Linked DNA regions of Homo sapiens: region 2 is linked to region 1. Evidence: fine-mapped expression QTL. A gene starts in region 1. The other region holds a variant in brackets. All regions are shown on one strand. Distances are between the middles of the regions. Region 1 holds the start of CAD (carbamoyl-phosphate synthetase 2, aspartate transcarbamylase, and dihydroorotase). Region 2 overlaps SLC30A3 (solute carrier family 30 member 3).

Region 1 (11,102 bases):
CCCTGTTCTTAGGTCCACAACCCAGTTCTACTCAGGATCTTACCTGTCTGGCCCCCAGGGTTCCCAGCTGTGGCCTCTTTCACAGTTTCCAGAAAGATATCGAAAAGCAGTTCCATATCTGAAGGGCCAGCTTGGTGCTCTGGGTGAAACTGGACACTATTGAAGAGATTGCATCATGAAAACCATCATGGTCCCTGGCATGACACTGGCAGCCTCGAGGTGGGTAGTGGGACAGGGGACTCGGATCCACTGCCGTGCTTTACTTTTCCATCATCAAGGCCCACAGGGCTTCAAATTTTCACAGACCCAGTCAACCAGGCTCACCTGAAGAAAGGCAAGCTGTTGTGCACAATGCCTTCATTGGAACCATCATTGGCGTTGGTGAAGAGAGGAGCCCAGTCTGCTGGCAGTGAGTCTGTCTCCACAGCAAACCCATGGTTCTGGGATGTCAGAAAGCAGCGCCCAGAGCCCACCAACAAGCAGGGCTGGTTATGGCCTCGGTTCCCATATCTGGAGGTAGAAGCATGCCGAGTCACAGGCCCTGCTCACCCTCTCTTCACTACTGAACCTACCCCAGCTCTCACCGATCTCCTGTTCTCAGTAGCCTCACTCCTGTTTCCTTTTTGTTTTTTTTTTTTTTTTGAGACGGAGTCTCCCTCTGTTTCCCGGGCTGGAGGGCAATGGCACGATCTCCGCTCACTGCAACCTCCACCTCCCAGGTTCAAGCGATTCTCCTGCCTCAGCCTCTGGAGTAGCTGGGATTACAGGCGCACGCCACCATGGCTGGCCAACTTTTGTATTTTTAGTAGAGACAGAGTTTCACCATGTTGGCCAGGCTGGTCTCGAACTCCTGACCTCCAGTGATCCGCCCACCTTGGCCTCCCAAAGTGCTGGGATTACAGGTGGGAGCCACCTCACCTGCAACCCCCCCGCTCCTATTTCAACACGAATAAACACCAACTCTCTTCTCATTCCTGAGACACCCCACCCCTCATGCCACAAGTATGGGCCCCTTCTGCTCCCCACAAGTCCCACCTCATCTTGTAAGTCTTGGCCCCAATGGCTAAGGCCAATAGCTGGTGTCCCAGGCAGATCCCAAAGACAGGTCGGGGATTAGGCTCAGATAAAACACGGCTCAGTGTGGATACGACACTGGGATAGGAGGCAGGGTCACCAGGCCCATTACTTAAGAAGAGACCCTCATACTCTGGAGTGGGCAGAAAAGATGACATCAAAATCAGTATTTCAATTACAGGAGACACACCTGCAGCCCCCCCAGCCCATGAGAGTGTTAAGTCCCAATGTCTATCTTCTTCACTGCAACTCCTACTGACTTTTAGCAATTGGACCAAGGGATAGATCTTCCACCCAAGCTGCTTGTCTGAGGCCCTGAACAGGCCCCAGCTACTCACCTTGGCTGTCTAGTGCATGGTCCCAGGGTACCACAGTGACCTCAGCCCCACGCTGGCAGAGGCATCGGATCTGATTATACTTGAGGCCACAGTCCAAAGCAAGGATCCGAGGGGCACCCCCTGTATTGAATACCCGTGGAGTCTGAGAAATAGACGAATAAAGGGCAACAGTTGGCAGCTGTGCTCAGTGGGTATAAGATATGCCTGCACCAACTCCTACCTTCAAAGCCTCCTTTGATTCTCTCCTGTGTTCACCCCCCAATTGTGGGCAGAATATAACTACTGTGCTAGAGCTTGCAACACTCTCCCACTCTACCTCTGTACCTTAATGGAGACCTCTGGTACCAGGGGGCGGGCATTGGGGTCCAAGAATGGCAGGGATGAAGGTTCTGTTCCATTCTGGACCAGCTTCCCCAGCAGAGACCCCTGTTCCCGCAACTTCTTGGTCAGCTCCCGAGTGTCTACTCCTGTCAAAATAGCACAGTCTTAGGGATCACATTCCTACAACTCAGTCATCTGTGAGGTTAGACTTCCAGAAGCACTTCCATTCCAGAGCCCCAGTCACACACAGCTGTTCTATGTGCATCAAAATCCTGGGCCATTGTGACAGAAGTATACTACCATGAAGTATTCCTGCCAAAAATATCACATCTGAATTGAACAACTCTAAATCTATCCATTTATAGAAAATAATATAAAGGGAAAAAAAGAATACGCTAAGTAACACTACAGGAGTGTAACCAAGTAAGTGCAGACTATGGGATACTAGATACAGGAAAAATGACCTGTTTTCAAATAGGTTACAAGGTCCACAGATTAAGAGACTTATCAACCAAATGCAATGTGTGAACCCTGTTTAGAGCAAGATTCAAATGAACAGAAAAAAAAAAAAAAAAAAAAAAAAAAATTGGGAAATTTTAAACATTGCCTGGACACTTGTATTAGGGAATTATTAATTTTTTTAGTGTATGACGTTATTATGATCATGTTTTTTAAAGATTCCTTTTGCATAGATATTGAACTATTTGTAGATGAAATGATATGATGTCTGAGATTTGCATCAAAATAATCCAGTGGTGGTGATGAAATAAGATTAGCCCTAAGCTGATGATTATGGAAGGTGGGAGTTCCTTCCTGTGTTGGAAATTTTCTTTCTGAGTGATAGTTCAATTCTTTCTCCCAGCCCAACTCCAATCTAAACCTTCCAACTATCACAATCTTAGAGTCAGGTCCCAGCAGATTACAGAAACCTTGATTCTTTCCATCCAGGCATGCTGTGCTCTGCCCAAATATGCCCCTGCTTGCCACCATACCTTGCAAGCCAGGGATGCCATGCTGCTGCAGCCACTCATGCAGGGTGCGGGTGGCACTCCAGTGGCTGGGAGTAGGACAGCACTCTCCCACTACCAGTGCTGCTACGTGGATGCCCGAGGATTCAAACCACTGTAGATGGAAAGAGATTGTGAGAAGCCTCAGGCCAAGTTATTTCTTTGCAGCATTTTCCCGATTGTGTGGCCACAGACCCTATATTCAGCCACATTGAATGGCCTTCAATATACCAAACTTTTGGTGCTTTTGCATAGGTATTTCCATTTACCAACAACGCTCTCTCCTATACGAAACACAACCCACAGGCCCAGGGTGCCCCGATGATCACTGAAAATGACATTTTCCTTTTTATTTATTTATTATTTATTTTTTTTGAGACAGAGTCTCACTCTGTCACCCAGGCTGCAATGCAGTGGCGACATCTAAGCTCACTGCAACCTCTGCCTCCCGGATTCAAGCAATTCTCTTGCTTTAGCCTCCCGAGTAGCTGGGACTACAGGCGCCCGCCACCACACCCGGCTAATTTTTTGTATTTTTAGTAGAGACGGGGTTTCACCATGTTAGCCAGGATGGTCTCAGATCTCCTGACCTTGTGATCTGCCCACCTCAGCCTCCCAAAGTGCTGGGATTACAGGAGTGAGCCATCGCACCTAGCCATTCCTTTTTTTTTTTTTTGAGACAGGGTCTTGCTGTTATCCAGGCTGGAGTGCAGAGTACAGTGGCACAAATACACGGTTCACTACAGCCTCAATCTCCTGGGCTCAAGTGATTCTCCCACCTCAGACTCCTGAGTAGTTGGGACCACAGGTGTGGATCATCACACCTGGCTAATTTTTTGAATTTTTTGTAGTGACAGCGTCTCACCATGTTGCCAGGCTGCTCTCAAACTTCCTGGGCTCAAGCGATCCCCCCACCTCAGCCTTCCAAAGTGCTGGGATTACAAGTCATGAGCTACCGCGCCCCGCCTCTTTCTTCCTTTATCTAAAACTGAAATCACAAATCCTTTCTCTGTGAAGCCCCTCCCACTCACCCAATACAGCTTGTGCCTCCATCTTAGAGCTGTTTTAATACTTTATTTCCTCTCTTGCTATTTACGTCATATGATGAATATGTATTTGTGTCTTTGTCACGAAACAGAGAACTCAAGAGCAAGGCACATGGTGTCAGTCAGACATTTATTGAGGTGCAGGCATTGCAAAAGATGCTGAGAAAAGAGCAATGAGCAAAAAAAGATGAGGTTCCTGTCTTCATGATGTTTATTTCTGACTTAGGGAGCTAGAAAACAAGGTAACACCCATATAAATATTAATTATAGAGTGTGATTAAAAACTGAGTAAGATAGGGAGGTACAAAATACCCCATTACCAAATAAAAAACAAAGGTTCAGGGCACAATACTAAGCATGCCTCCCAAACTTCATTTGGGATTATTTAAAAAAGAAAAGGCCAGGCGCGGTGGCTCACGCCTGTAATCCCAGCGCTTTGGGAGGCCGAGGTGGGCAGATCACCTGTGATCGGGAGTTCAAAACCAGCCTGACCAACATGGAGAAACCCTGTCTCTACTAAAAATACAAAATTAGCTGGGAATGGTAGCCCATGCCTGTAATCCCAGCTACTCGGGAGGCTGAGGTGGGAGAATAGCTTGAACCCGGGAGGCGGAGGTTGCAGTGAGCCAAGGTTGCCCATTGCACTCCAACCTGAGCAACAAGAAAGAAACTCTACCTCAAAGCAAAATAAAAATAAAAAAAAATTAAATAAAAAAAGATAACATACAAGCCTGGGCAATGTGACAATACCCGGTCTCTACAAAAAATACAAAAAAAGTAGCCAGGCATGGCGGCAGGTGCCTGTAGTCCCAGCTACTTGGGGGGTTGAGGTGGGAGGACTACTTGAGCTCAGGTGGCAGAGGCTGCAAGTGAGCCATGATTATGCCACTGCACTCCAGCCTGGGTGACAAAGTGAGACCTTGTCCCCAAAAAAAAAACAAAAACCATAAACTTGTTACTCAATAGATAAGCGTTTAATAGCTACATAGAAACAGAAAGTTTATGTGGGAGGGATCAGCATATTTAAACTGCATTCAGCTGGGTGATGAACAGTTTAAGGAACCTGCATTCTGAGACTGTCCAGGGATCTGAAGGATAGTTTGGCAGAACCCTCCCTGGCCAGGTGGAGTAATCCATTTATATGTGCGAGTGGCTCCAAGAGGCCTTTCCCACCCTGATCCTAATCAGGCCTCAATTTTGTAGTTTTATAAACTCAATTTAGTCAGTGTGTCTAGAGTTGACAAAGGTGATGACTGACAAAGGTTAACCAAATTCACAAGAATTCACTATCAACTAGAATGCAGTGTATTTGTAGGTTTGTGATGAACCTAGAAATTCTTTTCCAGGAAGAACAACATGTACGTCCTTTATCCGGAGCTCACTCTCCCCAGCGTCAGGGTGGCTGGGAAGGCAAATTAAGAATTAAAGGCTTACACCTGCAGTGAGGCCAAACAAATTTTGAGAGATACTACTCTAGGCCAGATTGACTTCCTCTATTACCTTAATTACTATATGTTGGGTTTTTTTTAATGCTTGAACTGTCAGAGGGCAACTTAGTTTCCAAATTTCAGAGGTGAAGGAATAGGGGAAACCTCACTGTAGGAAGAAACTCAGTTTTCTCACCTAGAGGTAAGAACACAACTGAAAAGCAGAGAATCAGACGAGGCCATGTCAGTAGGTCTAGAAGATAATGTCACTGGTTTTGTAGGTAAACTGGCACTCACTGTCACAGAGAAGTATGTGACCCTAGTTTCCAGTCTCTTTCCACTAATTTATGTAGTCCTAAAAAGCACTGCTCCCATCTGACTCTGCTGCTAAAAAAAAACCTTCAATGGATCCTTTACCAAACTAAGCTGACTCTGCTTTGGCTTCAGGTCCCTCCATGCCCACCGGATTTAACTTATCTGCAGGCTTTTTTCTCCTGACTTCTGCATGCCTAACAAGTTGGACAAGGCTGTTCCCTTACACCTCTTTTACTTTTCCTTGATCCATGCCTTCACTACATACAGAATGCTTTCAGCTATACCTGGAGCCTTGATGCCCTTAACAAAGGCGGTAGCTTTTTCCTGAGGCCTCCAACACTCTGTGCCTCCCAAGGCACTTAACAACCCCTAACTACAGTTACTAGTGATCTTAGTCCTTGACTTTACTACTTCAGTGGGTATGTTTTCTGCAGGATGCCCAGCAGGGTGTCAACGTCTCCTACTTCACTAATAGTTAACAATTACTGACTTGAAAAGGAATGTAGAGAAAGCACTGGGTGTGGCTACCTTGCAGAGACCGAACTCATCCATTTCATCTGGGGGGATGCCATAGTTGCCGATCAGAGGATAGGTGAGCACTAAGATCTGTGCCTTGTAGGAGGGATCAGTGAGGGCCTCGGGGTAGCCGACCATGCCGGTTTGAAACACTGCAAGAAAGAAGCAGGGCTGGGCTCCGGTAGGGCACCCTTCGGAACACTCCCCGCGCGATGAGCACGCCCCAGTGGAGGCTGCCTTGGTCGCGAGGGGTTTATGGCGCTGGGGCCCATGGGCACCGAATGGGGGAAGGGGGTACGCTGGCGGGAAAATGGCGGGGTCTGGACGGGGAAGGTTGGGAGGAGAGGCGCATCACAGAGTGGGATAAGGTCTGCAGCCTAACCGGGCTTGCTTACCCACTTCCCCGGCAGTCGACACGGCGGCCCCAAAGGGCTGGCCCCGCAGGACCGACCCGTCCTCCAACACTAGGGCCGCCATGGGAAGGGAGCTCAGAGGCGGGGGCGAGTACGGAGAAGCGGGAAGGACTGCAAACTCCACTGGAACCACGTGAGGACGGCGCGCCGGAGTCGGTCCACGTGGCTAACGGCGCGGGGCGCTGGAGAGAAGCCGGGCGCGGCAGCGTAGGAGCCTCGGGCGCGCTTGGCGGCAGCAGCAGAGACTGCGGCGGCGCGGACACAGGCGGCGTGAGGGGCGGGGCCGGGCACGTAAGGGGCGGGGTCCGCGGAGCCACGGGGAGTGGGCCCCCGTGGTCTCCGCACTGCAAAACCGGGGGAAACCTGAAAAAACCGGCTGCCCTAAAGCAGTCCCTCCCACCCCAAGCAAGAAACACGTAAAGGCAGGGCGCCTTTCCTTAAAAAGAAAGAGAGGAAAAAAAAAGAAAAAAGTGTTTATTATAGGCAACAACACCAATGGGAACTGGTATTTGTCTACACCAAGGGAGTGCAATTTTTCATCTTCCAATGGCGGCCTCAACCTTGAGGCGAATCCACTGGCGAAAGATGCCTTTCTAGGAAGCAGAGCTCCCTGACTGGGCTAAGATAGTTCAGATTGATCTTAGGTCAATGGTAAGACCTATGTAGTTCATGAAGTCTTGGCTTTTCGGCGCTGGGTCGCCCAAAGCAGAATGGAGACGGATAGAGTGGTGGCTCCCAGAATCCCGAAGAACATAAGCAGTGAGAACGAGCCCTGTGAACAACAGACCAAAAAACACCCCCATACAACGTTACACGGAGGGCCACATCCTAACACCTAGTTCTTTCCTAATATACCTATCACTTTGTCTAGGGCAATTCTATAGTTTTCCACCTATAGGAAATTTGTATCAGCTCCTGGTCTTGTGGCTCTCCTTTCTGAGAAGACTTGCTCTATGCATTCCTTGTATCCCTAGTTAGACGGCCTAATTCCTCACCTGGCGCATACACTTGTATCCATGGAAACCATCAGCACAAACACACTGCAAAAGACCTGGACCATCAGGTACACAAGATCCATTCTCAGGACACATTTCTGGAGGCCAGAGAGAAATAGAGAACATCACTTTATCCATTTCATTAGGCATATTTCTCAATTATCTGTTTCAACTTAGATTCTCTCAATCATTGCTAGGATAAAGGAAGAAGAAAGAAAATTACAGATAAAAACAGTAACAATAATGTCAGGCCTCTGAGCCCAAGCTAAGCTATCATATCCCCTGTGACCTGCACGTATACATCCAGATGGTCTGAAGCAACTGAAGATCCACAAAAGAAATGAAAATAGCCTTAACTGATGACATTCCACCATTGTGATTTGTTTCTGCCCCACCCTAACTGATCAATATACTTTGTAATCTCCCTTACCCTTAAGAAGTTTCCTTGTAATCTCTCCCACGCTTAAGAAGGTTCTTTGTAATTCTCCCCACCCTTGAGAATGTACTTTGTAAGATCCATCCCCTGCCCGCAAAACAGCACTCCTAACTCCACTGCCTACCCCAAAACCTGTAAGAACTAATGATAATCCCACCACCCTTTGCTGACTCTCTTTTTGGACTCAGCCCACCTGCACCCAGGTGAAATAAACAGCCTTGTTGCTCACACAAAGCCTGTTTGGTGGTCTCTTTACACGGACACACGTGAGACAAATAATAGAGTATATCTTAAGATCTTTTCTTTCAAAGGGGTTATAGCCCCAGAACTCTGAATGAAAGGCGCTTAAGCAACTTTGTCTTTCTGATCTAAAGTGGAAAATACAAGGGAGAAAAGACAATTCCCAGAAGTTTGGAGGTAAGACAGCATACCTGGGTCCCCAGTGTTATTGCAAAGGTTCTTTTGCCCTTGACAGATTTGGTTGTCTATATAAGAGGTGATAGTATTCCAGGCATTAATTCCTCCAGGACAGTTGACATGTTGTGGCAGTATCCTATAGAGAAATGTGGTCATAACATGCAAAGTTGCTAAACTCACAGCATCATCCCTCTTTGATTCTCTTCCCATACCCTTACTCACAGAGTCTGGAGCTGAGTAAAGCCACGGAAGGTGTTGGCCAAGTCACCTTTGAGGGGGTTTGCTTGCAGGTCTCTGCAAAGTACACAATGTTAGCACTTTCGCATCAACCTACATTATATTAGCCTTTTGGGTGGGAGGTACCTAACTACTTACATGATGACAGTGGTATGTGCCTGATGAAAGTTTGGACCAGGGTCCTCCAGAGAACAGTTCTGGAGATCCAGCCTGAGGAAATAAAGTAATCAATATAACTGTGTGTTCCTCTTTTTCTTCAGCCACGGCACAGTTTGTATTTGACTACACAACCCCCTTTTCAGCTAATAATTGAACACAGCTGTGTTCAGAGTCACACACTAGGAGCTGTGGTAGACATTTTAATTCTGCATTATCCAATAGAATCGCCACTTGCCACATGTAACTACTTAAATTTAAATTAATGTACCTTAGGCTGGGTGTAGTGACTCACTCCTGTAATCCCAGCACTTTAGGAGGCCAAGCGGGGGAGGATCACTTGAACCTAGGAATTCAAGACCAGCCTGGGCAATATGAATGAGACCCTGACTCTATAGAAGAAAATTAATTTAACCTAAAAATTCAGTGTCTCATTTGCACTAGCCGTATTTCAAGTGCAAATGGAATAACCACGTTAGTAGCTACTGTACTGGTTAGTACAGATACGGAACATTTTCCTTTTTTGAGACAGTCTTACTCTGTTGCCCAAGCTGGAGTGCAGTGGCACGATCTCGGCTCACTGCAACCTCCATCTCCCGGGTTCAAGCAATTCTCCTGCCTCAGCCTCCTGAGTAGCTGAGATTATAGGCACATGCCACCACGCCTGGCTAATTTTTGTATTTTTAGTAGAGACGGGGTTTCACCATGTTGGTCAGGCTGGTCTTGAACTCCTGACCTCGTGATCCGCCCATCTGGGCCTCCCAAAGTGCTGGGATTACAGGCATGAGCCACCGCGCCTGGCTCGGAACATTTTCATAATCACAGAAAGTTCTATCCGCCAGCACTGTTCTAATCGGTTATGCATCTATTGGGAGAAATCTGTGTTTCTTGTCTACATTAGTGAATCTCATATTATGATTTTCAGATCCACAGAGGGCCTTTAAATTAAAAAAAAAAAGTCACATAAATCAAAGTTTTTTTCCACATGTATTTTCTACCACAGATTGGTTGTAAACTGCTGGACATTAAGGATCATGCCACGTTATTTTTTTCTTCAATATCTACTGCTATCCATTCCTTTATTCTACAAATATTTACTGAGTCCCTACAAACTGCAAACACTGGGAGAATGTTAAAAATATGTAACACAGTATTTTGGCCTTTGAGTGGCTTACAATGTAGTTAGAGGAACAAGAGCACTGCCCAAAAATAAAAGCACTGTAAACATTAAATTACAATATAAAAGAAACCACAGGACAGTGTATAAATATATTTGAGTGGACACTAAAGATTACAGGAAGTTTTTAAAAAAGGTATTACTGAATCGCTTGAACCCAGGAGGTGGAGGGCGCGGTGAGCCGAGATCATGCCATTGCATTCCAGCCTGGGCAACAAGAGTGAAACTCCGTCTCAAAAAAATAAATAAATAATAATTTAAAAAAGGTATTACTCTGGAACTTAGTAGTAGTAAATATTCACAAAAGATGTTGGAATTGAAGGATGGATATTTCCTAATTTGGTAGAGGAAGGCAATTTCAGGTATGGAGAGAGGCCTGAACAAAGGTGGAATGCCTTTGAGGGCAGGCAAATCTGGCTGGTGCAGACCATTATGGAGGTTTGAGCGGACAAGTAATTGGAAATAATGTTGGAAAAGTGGGTTGGGACTAGTATGGTACTTAATGGTTTGAATTTTGTCCTGAGACAAAATTTAATACTAAATATAGTATTAAAGCAAGAGAGTGATAATGGAAAATGTTGGTTTTCTAAAAGCTTAATACAGAGAAGTATTTAGGTAGATGAAGGAAAGAAGAGAATGGAAGCAAAACATAACATTTTGAGTTTGAAGTTAGGGTGCACTCAGTAGGAAATGCTTAATAGGAAGCTAGAGGTACCCGTATGTACCTGGAGTGTGGAAAGGTTAAAAAAGACACTAAAGAGATCTAGTTTTGGTAGACATCTGCGTGATGATTACAGCTGAAACCATAATAGGTGGATTCTTTAAATAATATAAGGGTATAAAAGCAGCCAGGCTAAGGAATGGCCTGTATCCAGCATCTAGGGATGTCTTCCCCTCACCCCAAGATGGTGCCCTTCTGATTCAGGCAGCAACGGGCATGCAGCATTAGCTCTCGTGTCGTTTTACAATAAAAGGCCACTTTTGACAAATTTTGCACGCTCCCTGGACATTGGGTGCATATCTGCAGAAGAGAAAGAAACATTAGAACTCCAGAAAGAAAAGCCAAGAAAAGAACAAACGGCGATCAAGAATTAACTGCCAGTACACGTTTCCAGAATTCCTCTAACACGGGGCCGATAAATGGATAAACGGCTCGTGTCCCACCCTTGTAACAGGCTAGGCTAGGAGATGCCATCTCTTCCTCCAGAGTCCTGCGCCGAATCAGCT
Region 2 (12,171 bases), 33 kb before region 1:
AGAATGGCCTTTGTGCTGCACCAGGCTGGGCCCCCCCACAGCCACGGGTCTAGGGGAGCAGAGTATGCACCGCTGGAGGAGGGGCCTGAAGAGCCCCTGCCCCTGGGGAACACCAGCGTCCGGGCGGCATTTGTGCACGTGCTGGGGGACCTCCTGCAGAGCTTTGGGGTACTGGCTGCCTCCATCCTCATCTACTTCAAGGTACCATCATTGGAGACCTGCCCCAGCCTTCCTCCCCACAACCACATCCCAGCCCACTCCTTCCCAGGTCCCAAAGCTTCCTTCCTCCTCCCTCCAGCTCCTCCCTCCCACCTCCCAGGACTCTCCCAGACATGAGTCATGTTCCCTGTCCCCTCTTCAGGGTTTTGAGGGGCCTCTCAGGTCATGTTTGTTCAAGATACCCCTAGATCTTCCTCTGAAAGGTCCCTGGTTGTTGGGCTTAGGGGTCTCTTTCTCTGCAGCCTCAATACAAGGCAGCCGACCCCATCAGCACCTTCCTCTTCTCCATCTGTGCCCTTGGATCCACCGCTCCCACCCTCCGAGACGTTCTTCGAATCCTCATGGAAGGTGAGTCGGGCACCACAGCTCCCCATCCCTGTGGCCCTCTCTGACTTTACTCTCGCAGTGGGCCATCACTTTTTTCTTTGAAGATAGTACGGGAAGAAGGCTTGGCTCATGGGGTCTGCTGCTGGAACAAGGATTTGGGCATAGGGTGAATTGTAGGGGTCAAAAGGAGAGTGCATACAGGATAGGGGAGGTGGAATCCAGTGGTGGGGGTGCTGCTTCTGGGCAGGAGTAGCCCTAGCAGTAAGGCATGACTGGTGCTGGTTGCAGGTACCCCCCGCAATGTGGGGTTCGAACCTGTGCGGGATACGCTGTTGTCGGTGCCAGGAGTCCGGGCAACCCATGAGCTGCACCTGTGGGCCCTTACGCTCACTTACCATGTTGCCTCTGCACACCTGGCCATCGGTGAGTCACACTGGCCCCAGCTAGTTACTACCTGGAACATACCCCACCCCAAACATGGGACCATAGCTTGAGTTACTGGAATTGTTTCAGTCTTTTTTGATCTGTCTCTGTTTCTCTGTGTCTCTCTCTCTCACATAGACACATACACACACACACACATGCACGTGCGCTCGTGCATGTTGGAGACAAGGAGTCTCCATCCACTGGATGCAGTGTTCTGGGGGCAGTTTCACCCTCTTTGAAGTAGCACAGGGAACCAACAACCCTTTAAAAGATCATTAGTACCTACAGGTCTAGTGATGGGGCACAGTTAGGTAAATTACAGCACCTCCACCCTGAGGTATCACATAACTGTTAAAAATGATGCTTGTGAAGACTGTACAGCAACTATGAAAAATGTTTATGGTATAATGCTGAGAAAAAAGCTGAATATAAAATTGCATCTACATTATGATTCAACTATTAAAAATATATATGGTGAGTCATGAGCTGACAAAGGATTTTTGAGTTTCTTCCAGATGCAAGAAGCAATCAGAGTCATGCAATTTGTATGCCAAAAATATTATAATTTGTGGGATATTTGATGGAAACTCTAGAGGGACAATGAGACAGATATTTAACAACTGGATTGTCCTGGGAAATCGGGTGGTATGGCTGCTGAAATGTTGAGCTGTATGTTGACACTTAATGACAGGAGAGAATAGGAGACTGGAAAGAGTTTAGTGTGTTAGCATGGTTGATTGGGGTGAGTCTCTCCAACATTTGATTTGACACTTTTATGCTGTTCATACAATACAGAAAGAAAAGCAGGCTTCCATTCACGCCTGGCTTTAATGCTGTGCAGCCCCTTTCCCTGTCCTTATCTCAGTCCCTGCCTGTTCTTTCTCCCCCGGGATGGATGCCGCCTCTTATCACTCTCCCACAGACTCCACCGCTGACCCTGAAGCCGTCCTGGCTGAAGCCTCATCCCGGCTCTACTCCCGGTTTGGATTCTCCAGCTGCACCCTGCAGGTCGAGCAGTATCAGCCGGAGATGGCCCAGTGCCTGCGCTGCCAGGAACCCCCCCAAGCCTGAGCCATGGCCCTGCCCTCACCCCACTGCCAGGCCGAGGCTCAGCCCCAGACTCTCAGCATCTGCTGCCCTGATCACAGAGACGGGACCGAGCCAGGTCCATACCCCTTCCTCTCTCCCTCCTACCACCTGCCAGTTTCCCCAGCCTCAGCCCCAGCCCCAGCCCCAGTGGGCAAGACCAAAGTGTGGCGGGGAGTGGGGTGGGAGTCAGGGGAATAGATGTGACTAGTTCAGGGGCGGGGACTCCCAGGCCTCAGTGTGGCAGGGTGTGTTGAAGGCCTGTGGTGCCATCTCCCCATGGTTCATGTGGAGCCACGAACATCCTTTCCCTGCAGTCCATTTGTCTGTGTGGCAGGCTGGCTGGCTGGGGGCATCTGCCTGTCTATGTGCTGTTGGTGTGCCTATGCCTGGGGGAGGTCAGTAGGGGCCCCCTCCCCACATGGCCCTCGCTCTGTCTATGCAGGGGCCCCAAAGCCCGCACTTTGTCCGTGTGTCTTAGCCCTGTGGTTTTGTCTGTGTGTGTGTGTGTGTGTGTGTGTGTGTGTGTGTGTGTGTTCTTGGTGCTGTGGCCTGTGTGTCTCTGTGCCTATGTGGCTGTGCTATGGTTTCTATGAGTCTGCTCCATCCATGTGTCTGTTTGGGGGTCTATCTCTCCATCCCTCTGTTGGTGCTGTGCCCTTGGCTATCCCTGAAAGAGGGAGGACTCCGCTGCAGCTCCACCAATAAACTTGTGTCTCACTGCATCTTTCAGCCTGTGTGCTGACTCCTCAGGAGGGGGAAGTCAAATAGGTCACTTGAGAACAACAGAATCCCTCCTGTCCCTTCCCAGCCTCTGGAGTGACCTCCCACAGACCTCCTGTCCCTTCCCAGCCCCTCCACCCTCAGATGGAGGGTAAAAGCCACCAGTCTCTTTACTCCCCTTCCCCTGGCTCACAGCATGCCTGGGTCCTTGGCTCAGGGACAGTCCCATGTGCCCTGGGCTTGGTTGCAGGAGAATGCTGGAAGGTAAGGAGCCAAGGAATCCCTGGGAGTCAGTCGTTCTCAGAGGTCCCTGCATGCCAGTGGGCCTCAGGCTGGCTGGAGGGAGGCTGGGTCCCTTTGAGGGAGAATGGCTAGACCATAGCACTGATGTGGGCTTGGTTCTCAGGCCATCTAAGGTGTCCAGCGGTAGGGACCCCTCAACCCTGATAGCAGCCAACCCTGAGTCCAGGTTTAGGCTGTGAACACCAAGGACCTCTTTTACACCTATTCCCCCTTTGTCTTAAGAACTGCATATTTTGACACATTAAGTCTTAAAATCAGGCTCATTAAGGGATTGTTGATTTTCTCTTTAAAAAAAATCAAACTCAAGCTGGACATAGTGGCCTGTGCCTGTAATCTCAGCCCTTTGGAGGCTGAGGCAGGAGGATTGTTTGAGCCCAGGAGTTCAAGACCAGCCTGGGCAACCTAGGGAAACCCCTGTCTCTACAAATAATTTAAAAATTAGCTGGGTGTGGTGGTGCATACCTGTAGTCCCAGCTATTCAGGAGGCTGAGGCAGGAGGATTGCCTGAGCCCAGGAGGTCAAGGCAGCAGTCAGCCATGATCATGCCACTGCACTTCAGCCTGGGCAACAGAGCAAGACCTTGTCTCAAAAAAAAAAAAAAATCAAACTCACTGGGTTTGGTGGCTCATGTCTGTCATCCCAGCACTTTGAGAGGCTGAGGCAGGAGGATCGCTTGAGGCCAGGAGTTCAAGACCAGCCTGGTCAACATAGTGACACCCTGTCTCTACAAAAAAAATTAAAAATAAAAATAAATTAGCTACGTGTGGTGGTGTATGTCTGTGGTTCCAGCTACTCAGGAGGCTGAGGTGGGAGGATCACTTGAGCCCAGGAGGTTGAGGCTGCAATGAACTATGATCATGCAACTGCACTCCAGCCTGAGCGACAGAGCAAGACTCCATCAAAAAAAAAAAAAAAGAAAAAAAAAGAAAAATCAGCTAGGCAAGATGGCTCACGCCTGTAATTCCAGCACTTTGGGAGGCTGAGGCAGGCAGATCACTTGACCCCAGGAGTTCAAGATCAGCCTGGGCAACATGGTGAAACCCTGTCTGTACAAGAAATACAAAAATTAGCTGGGCATGGTAGTGTGTACCTGTAGTCCCAGTTACTTGAGAGGCTAAGTGGGGAGAATCACTTGAGCCCAGGTTGTCGAGGCTGCAGTGAGCCATGATTGTGCCACTGCACTCCAGTCTGGGCAACACAGTGAGACTGTGTCTCAAACATGGTCAAACCCTGTCTCTACTAAAAAATACAAAAATTTGGCCGGGCACAGTGGTTCATGCCTGTAATCCCAGCACTTCAGGAGGCCGAGGTGGGTGGATCACCTGAGGTCAGGAGTTCGAGACCAGCCTGACCAACATGGAGAAACCCCGTCTCTACTAAAAATACAAGAATTAGCCAGTGTGGTGGCGCATGCCTGTAATCCCAGCTACTCAGGAGGCTGAGGCGGAAGAATTGCTTGAACCCAGGAGGCAGAGGTTGCGGTGAGCCGAGATTGCATCAGTGCACTCCAGCCTGGGCAACAAGAGTGAAACTCTGTCTCAAAAAAAAAAAAATTAGCTGGGCATGGTGGTGGGCACCTGTAATCCTGGCTACTCGGGAGGTTGAGGCAGGGAGAATCGCTTGAACCCGGAAGGCAGAGGTTGCAGTGAGCTGAGATTGCGCCACTGCACTCCAGCCTGGGCGACAGAGGGAGACTCTGTCTTAAAAAAAAAAAAAAAAATTAGACTCTGTGCTTTGATTTTAGATCTAGTGCTTCAGGCCTTCCCACCATGTTGATAAAATCCCAGCCCAAAGCAAGGACGTTGAGCATTTTCAATAGCCCATGCATATTTCTGTGAGCCTTCCTCATAATAGAAATATCTTTATTATCAGATTATTTTTACTATAAAAGCAATATATACTTGTTTTAAGGGTACAACAAAGGAAAAGTATATAAAGTAGAAAGTGAATGTTTCCCCTGTAATCTTACTTTCCGAGAAAACTGCTAATCCTAGTATGGGGTCAGTATTTCTACATAATAACAAAAATGGGGTCATCTTATAGGTGAGATCGTGTTACCTGTGTTTATGACTCAACCATGCAGCCTAGACTCATCTTTCCATGTCAAGACCATAGATTTCATTCCTTTTTAAAGGTGAGGCTTTTGGACTCATCAGAGGTAGCCCCCTCCCTGATGTCCAGCTGGGAGCCTTAGCCCAGGCTGGGTGAGACGCCACTGCCCACGTCAGGGTGTGGGAGGCTGGCGAAGCGAAGGGCTGGCAGTCCATCA[C/T]GCCCGGCGGCAAGGCCGCCCCAGCTGCTCGCCATGCTTTGCTGGTTCCTGATACTTTCTCATTTTACGTCTCATTGATTATAGGCCCCAGGTGACAGGATGGGGGTGGGGAAGAGTGAGGAAATCGAGGAGAGGGAAGGAGGGTGGGGAACAGGAGGACTCGATTTTCACCCTATGAAATGCTTTAAGCCACAGCCTGTCCTATCTGTGCGATGCTGGGTCCCTTTGCAGGGGAATGCTCAGGGCAGGTGAATGCCTTCACCAAGCATCCAGTCCATCTTCTGCCCATAGAAGGAGGAGACTCAGGGAGGGAAAAAGACTTCCCCAGGGTCAGCCAGCACATGCCCAGGCTCTCATTCCCACTCCAGGCCCCTTTGAAGCTCTTGCCTAGTTGAGTTTCTCAGCAAATCTTTCCTCAGCCCTTCCAGCAGCCTGCTGCCGCTGGCACTCCCGTCCTGGGGCTCTGGGGTCAGACCCTCTGGTTCTGCTCTGCCTTTACTATTATTCTAGTCACAGTTAACCTCTCTGCGTCTCAGCTTTCTCAATTATAAAATAGTGATTACGTGATATCATGGGTGTGAATGTGCCTGGTATATAGAAGGTGTATATAAGAGTTAGCTTTTGGGTTGAACCCAGGATGCAGGGGAGAGATTTCAGGAGAAGAGAGTGGCCCGGCACCCTGACAGCAGGGACAGGAAGCAGCAATCATTGAGCTTATTTTGTGCAAGGCACTGTGGTGCGGACAGTATCCTGTGCACCTGACAGATGGAGAAGCAGGCTCACCTGCCCATGGTCGTGCAGCTGGTTCCACTCGGTTCTGAGTTCTGGCCCCTGGACGTCCCCAGCCCTCTCTCTATGCCATCCTGCCTTTCCACTCACCTTCGGGCATCGGGAGGATGAGGAGACAGGTCTCTGGAGCATTCTCCCACCTTCACACTGGGCCACCATCCCCGGGAGCCCAGGAAATCCTTATCTGCAGAGCTGCCTGCACTCCCCCATTATCCTCCTATCCTCCTTCTCCACTCGCTTATCCAGAAGTCCCTTTCCCCTGGGTGCCCTTCCTTGATGATAGATGGAGGAGGGAGAGTCGAGGGGAAGGGACTGGGCCTGGGAGGGGTGAGGGGAAGGCAGGGGAGAGCAACGCAGGTGGGGGAGGGCCCATCCCTCAGCCCAGCCCCAGCTCTTTACACAGCTGATTAACTAGGGGAGGGGTGGGCTTTCGGGTCAGAGAGGAACCAGAGAAGAGGGACAGCCAGGAAAGGGGTGAAATGGAGAGTGGAGGGAGAGAGAGGCAGGCCGGGTTTCCCTGCTGAGAGCTGCAGGGCTATTCAAAGGAGAAACTGGAGATCAAAGGGCCAGAATGCAGGGTGCGGACCTGAGAGGCTTCGTGCTGCAGTGACTGGGCGGAGGAGCATGGGCACATGGGCAGGTCCTGCCCTTCTCCCAAGGCTGCCCACCTGGGGGTGGCCCAGGGTGAGTCCTGCACCACGTTTAAGAGGCGAAGGCCAAGGCCCAGGGCCCAGCCGGCAGGGTCAAGAGGAAGCCCGGGTGATAAGCACCACCCTCCAGCAGCCCTCCCGCCCGGTCAGGGCCCCGGTGCAGCCGGCTTAAAGGAGGCATTTGGCCCTCCCGCTTCCTAGAGCCCGGCTGGCTGGGGAGCAGCGCCCCCAACTGGGGCATACGCCACCGCAGCGGCAGAGGCAGCCGGAAGTCTTTGCAGGGAGTCTCAGGACTGGGGTCAGGACGGGAAGACCCTTTTCCCCTCCGCCAGGCAGAGACCCTCACTGTGGAGAACTGTAGTCAGGGTGTTCCTTTTATAGTTGGAGTACTCTTTCTTAACTCTCCAACCTCCCTTCCCCCAACTCTGGCAGTTCCCAGGGCCTCCCTGTCCCTGGCTTAAGTCCCAGGGACACCTCGTCAGTACCTGGTCAGTACCTTCCAAGGGGTGCTTGGAGGGGCAGTTCCCAGGCCCCAACAGGGCAAAGCCTGAGGCCCCAGATGCAGCTGTGTGGGGGCTTTTTCCTTTTTTGAGATGGGGTCTTGCTATGCTGCCCAGGCTAGCCTCAAACTCCTGGGCTCAAGCAATCCTCCTGCCTCGGCTTCCTGAGCAGCTGGGACTCCACGTGTATACCACCACACCCCCAGATGCAGCTGTGATCACCAGCAATCCCATACACAAAGCAGGCCCCGTTTCCTTAACTGGCAAGAGAAAGAACGTGGGGAGAGTGGGTAGGCAGGAAGGCCCGGGTTGCCAGAGCCTGTGCCTCCCTCCTTCAGCCCTGGTCCTAGCCTTTCTCTGCTCTTGCCATTCCCCGTGTGGTACCCCAGACCCCCTCATCTGCTCTCTGGCTACAGCATCCTGGGGACAGGAAGAAGCCCAGACCTGGAGAAGCTCACTCAGAGGACACGACCCAAACAGCCTTAACCTCCGATTCCATTCTTTTGTTTGCTTTGGCTCAACAACGATGGCTATAAATTTTTAAAGGACTGTAGCCAAAAGCCTGGGGAGAAATAGAAGGGAACTGAACCCAGAATATTAAAAAGATAAGAAAGCTTACCAAAATAAGCAGGGTTCAGACCCTACAACAACAAACTTGCTTTTTCCTGACCACGGAGTCTGCCCAAGCATGGCCTCCCTGCTTTCCCCCATCCTGCTGGACCAGGACGTGGTCACACAGGACTGCTGGGAGACACAGTAAAACGGTGAGTGGCCTACTGACGGCACACTCCTTGAAGGAAGGCATGCTCCCCCAGCACTTAGCTCACAGCCAGACACCAAGTACATGCTCAGTATGACTGCTGGTGATGGAAGGAATGGGTGGAAGGATGGTGAACAGATAAATGTCAGGCCAATGCAAAGTCCATAAAATATCTTCTAATCCCCAGCTCCTACCAATGGGCCAACAAGCAGGTTTCATACATGCTGATTCCCGAGGTATAAATCTGTATCTGATGGTAGCATTTGATGGTAGCAATTCAGGTGCTCTCAAGCAGGCAGTCACTTCTATTTCTTTTCTTTTTTTTTTTTTTTTGAGATGGAGTCTCGCTCTGTCGCCCAGGCTGGCGTGCAGTGGCGTGATCTTGGCTCACTGCAAGCTCCGCCTCCCGGATTCACACCATTCTCCTGCCTCAGCCTCCCGAGTAGCTGGGACTACAGGTGCCTGCCACCACACCCGGCTAATTTTTTTTGCATTTTTAGTAGAGATGGGGTTTCACTGTGTTAGCCAGGATGGTCTCGATCTCCTGACCTCGTGATCCGCCCGTCTCGGCCTCCCAAAGTGCTGGGATTACAGGCGTGAGCCACCGCGCCCGGCCAGCTCATTTCTATTTCTTGGGTCCTCCAGGGAGTGCAAGCCCTTCTACGCCCCTGCCCTGGACATGGCTTCCCCCAGCCCCACCACAAATTCAGTGTTTAGCTTCCCCTTGAGTCCTGCTTGTGACTCTATTAATCTCCTGCGGATTCATCACAGCTTCCCTGACCTTCTCTAAAGCCTTTGAGCTCCCAATCTCAACACCCATTTTTTTCCTTGCCACTTGGTAAATGACCTCAGCTTCTAAACCAGTCCCTCAGTAACCTCGTGAAACCTGGTTACCACCACAAAGCATCAGCCTAACAACTATTGTGACAAGGTCCTTGCCTCAAATTTCCTTCTCTTTGGCCTGCTACAGGATTTGAATCTGCCAATACGTCTCCCGTCCCTCACACACTTGGAATTCTGGGCCTCTTGAGGGCTTTCTCCTGAGTTCTCCTGCGGCCCTTGCTGAAATTGAGGCTTGCCGCTATTCTCTTGGTGAACAAATATGCATATTTTAAAAGCTTCAATTACCTTTATGTTGATGCTTCGGTCAACACATTTACTGAGCACCTACTATGTGCTCAACCCTGTTCTGGTGTTTGGGATACATCAGTGAGTAAAGTCCCTGCTCTCATGGCACTTGTGTTGTCACATATAAATGCCACCTGTCTCTATTGTGCTTGCTCCAACTCCCCAGCTCCATTACCTCCATGACATCTCCATATAGATGGCCCACGGCAGCTAGGTATCATGCCCAAATGGAATCAGCCCTCCCCTACCCCAAACTGGCTATCTGGTCTACCTTCATCAGTCTTCTTTCTTCCAGTCTTGAGGTCCCACACTGTGCAGTCATTCTTCACTCTCCTCTCTCCTCAGTGTTATAACATCTATTCCTATCTCTGAATCTAGAACCTCTTCACCCATGATCTGTATTTACTGCAACAACTTCCTAATTGGCGTCCTGATGGTGAAATGGCTCCTTTCTCTCTTCTAGGCACTGTTGCCAGACGAGTCTTCCATTAAGCACTCATCCCATCCTGGCCCTCATTCTCTGCTCCTCACCTCCACCAGCCAATGCCCCCTCATTGTCCCAGGGGATATTACTGCAGAACTACAGACACTTTGCAATTTTACACTGGGAATTGCCAACTACCCTTTTAAAGCCTATAGGTGGGTTGGGCATGGTGGCTCATGGCTGTAATCCCAGCACTTTAGGAGGCTGATGCAGGAGGATCACTTGAGCCCAGGAATAGACCAGCCTGGCCGGGCGCGGTGGCTCATGCTTGTAATCCCAGCACTTTGGGAGGCTGAGGCGGGCGGATCACGAGGTCAGGAGATCGAGACCACGGTGAAACCCCATCTCTACTAAAAATACAAAAAATTAGCCGGGCGTGGTGGCAGGTGCCTGTAGTCCCAGCTACTCGGAGAGGCTGAGGCAGGAGAATGGCGTGAACCCGGGAGGCGGAGCTTGCGGTGAGCCAAGATCGCGCCACTGCACTCCAGCCTGGGCAACAGAGCAAGACTCCGTCTCAAAAAAAAAAAAAAAAAAAAAAAAAGTAATAGGCCAGCCTGGGCAACATGGCGAATCCCCATCTCTATAAAACAAAACAAGAACAAAAATTAGCCAGGTGTGGTGGCATGTGCCTGTGGTCCCAGCTATTCTGGAGGCTGAGTGGGGAGGATAACTTGACTCCAGGAGTTTGAGACCAGCCTGGACGACATGGCAAAACCCCATCTCTACAAAAAAAACACAAAAAATTAGCCGGGCATGGTGGTATGGCCATGGTGGTCCCACCTCCTTGGGAGGCTTAAGTGGGAGGATCACTTGAGCCCATGAGGTCAAGGCTGCAGTGAGCTGAGATCGTGCCACTGCACTCCAGCCTGGGTGACAGAATGAGACCCTGTCTCAAAAACAAAATTTTAGTATAAAAAATAAAAGCCCACAGGCATACTGACTTGCCATGGTTGCAGGTAGTTAGTTGTAAGGGCCAGGACTAGAGTGCAGCTGACAAAGCTCCCGGTGGACTACCTATGTTGAGGGGGATGTCTCCTTCACTAGGGTGGACAGTGAAGAGGTGGGAGAAAATGGCTGTAATAGCAACCCAACGTTAGCCACACTTCTTTCAAGGTGGGGGATAGTCAAAGGATTCATCCAAGTGTCAAAGGGATGTATCTGTAAAGCGCTTAGAACAGTGCTTGGCATATAAATGTTTCTTATAGAAGAAATAGATCAAACCTCTTAAGTACCTCAGGAAGCAAACTAACTTTTTATGCTTCATGACAATTACATGGCAGATATGAAGTTGTTTCTCAGTGGATGTGGAACAGGCCCAAAGGTATTGTATTAAAGGGCTAATTTTGGCTGGGTGCGGTGGCTCATGCCTGTAATCCTAGCACTTTGGGAGGCTGAGGCGGGCAGATCACTTGAAGTCAGGAGTTCAACACCAGCCTAGCCAACATGGCAAAACCCCATCTCTACTAAAAATACAAAAAGTTAGCTGGGTGTGGTAGCACATGTCTGTAGTCCCAGTTACTCGGGAGACTGAGGCAGGAGAATCACTTGAACCTGGGAGGCGGAGGTTGCAGTGAGCCAAGATTGCACCACTGCACTCCAGCCTGGGCAACAGAGCGAGATGCCATCTCAAAACGATAAAAATTTTAAAAAATAAAGGGCTAATTTTGGTTTTTGCTGGTAAGTTTTTTCATTTTGTTTCCCAATATAATGAGATTTACTTTCTGGTCATACGGGAAAAAACTTTATTCAACTCAGAGCTGAGCTATGATTAGGAGAGCCAAAGAAAGGCTCAGGACAGGAACATCTCCCACCACTTAGCAACTAAGTAAAATGCGTCCGCTACTTGGCAGAAAACACTGCTTCTACTTGAGGGTGAGGCTATCCAAGTTCTGTGGGAATCTGTGTGCGAGTCCCAAGTACTCATGAGTACAATTGGGAAAATAATCTCTGACTTGTTCTAAGAGTTTAAGCAAGGAAATGGAGTCTCTAGAAAGAAAAAGAAGAGTTCTGGAAATGGTACTCTATTTTCCAACCAATAAAGTCCTCCAGGTACCTGAGGGAGACCTTGTCAGGCAGGAATCTGGGTTTGGAAAGACTGGAAAGGGTTAACATTAGCAGGACTGGAGGCCTCCACACTCTAGGACTTAGCATTATACTTAATACCCTCCTTCAAATAGTACCTGTGGTTGTAAATTAATATTTTTGTTGGAATTGACATCCAAGCCCCCTGTTCTGGTCCGTCAGACTCTCAACCCTCACAATACTCAGTAGGAATCTCCTGCTGCGTTCAGTGTCTCCTCACTGTACCGCAGACACAATTTCCATTCCTCTCGAACTGTACTGTAAAGGAGACTCTTCGTCCTTCCTCACGACACAGCTCACACCCCACGGCACAGGGTTCTCCGACTCCGTATCTGTGCTGACCTCTTCTGGAAACTGGTTCCCTACAGGACTGCTTAGATTTGTGGCTTGTCTTTCCCACTGGTTTTTGGATGCCCTTAAAGCCA

The links. PIP is the estimated chance that this variant, and not a neighbour inherited with it, causes the effect.
Region 2: its variant is the best candidate, but not a certain one, in a credible set for the expression of CAD in whole blood (TOPMed, PIP 0.63).

What each region holds. Positions count from the first base shown.
Region 1 is chr2:27,212,971-27,224,072 of GRCh38, reverse strand. It overlaps CAD (carbamoyl-phosphate synthetase 2, aspartate transcarbamylase, and dihydroorotase), which reads right to left and starts at 6,704. Exons shown (of 44, transcript NM_004341.5): 1 at 6,440-6,704; 2 at 6,057-6,196; 3 at 2,726-2,855; 4 at 1,737-1,879; 5 at 1,413-1,554; 6 at 1,036-1,207; 7 at 325-510; 8 at 44-156. The coding sequence starts at 6,521. ATRAID (all-trans retinoic acid induced differentiation factor) reads right to left here. Exons shown (of 7, transcript NM_001170795.4): 2 at 10,775-10,896; 3 at 8,681-8,752; 4 at 8,528-8,599; 5 at 8,320-8,441; 6 at 7,453-7,550; 7 at 6,916-7,229. The coding sequence ends at 7,125. RefSeq lists a silencer at 6,603-6,832.
Region 2 is chr2:27,245,184-27,257,354 of GRCh38, reverse strand. It overlaps SLC30A3 (solute carrier family 30 member 3), which reads left to right. Exons shown (of 8, transcript NM_003459.5): 5 at 3-201; 6 at 462-567; 7 at 835-969; 8 at 1,895-3,671. The coding sequence ends at 2,043. Among named protein-coding and RNA genes, the nearest start is that of SLC30A3, 12 kb to the left of the region's middle. RefSeq lists enhancers at 6,309-7,102, 7,103-7,897 and a silencer at 7,293-7,473. The variant C/T (reference allele first, on the strand shown) is at 5,354.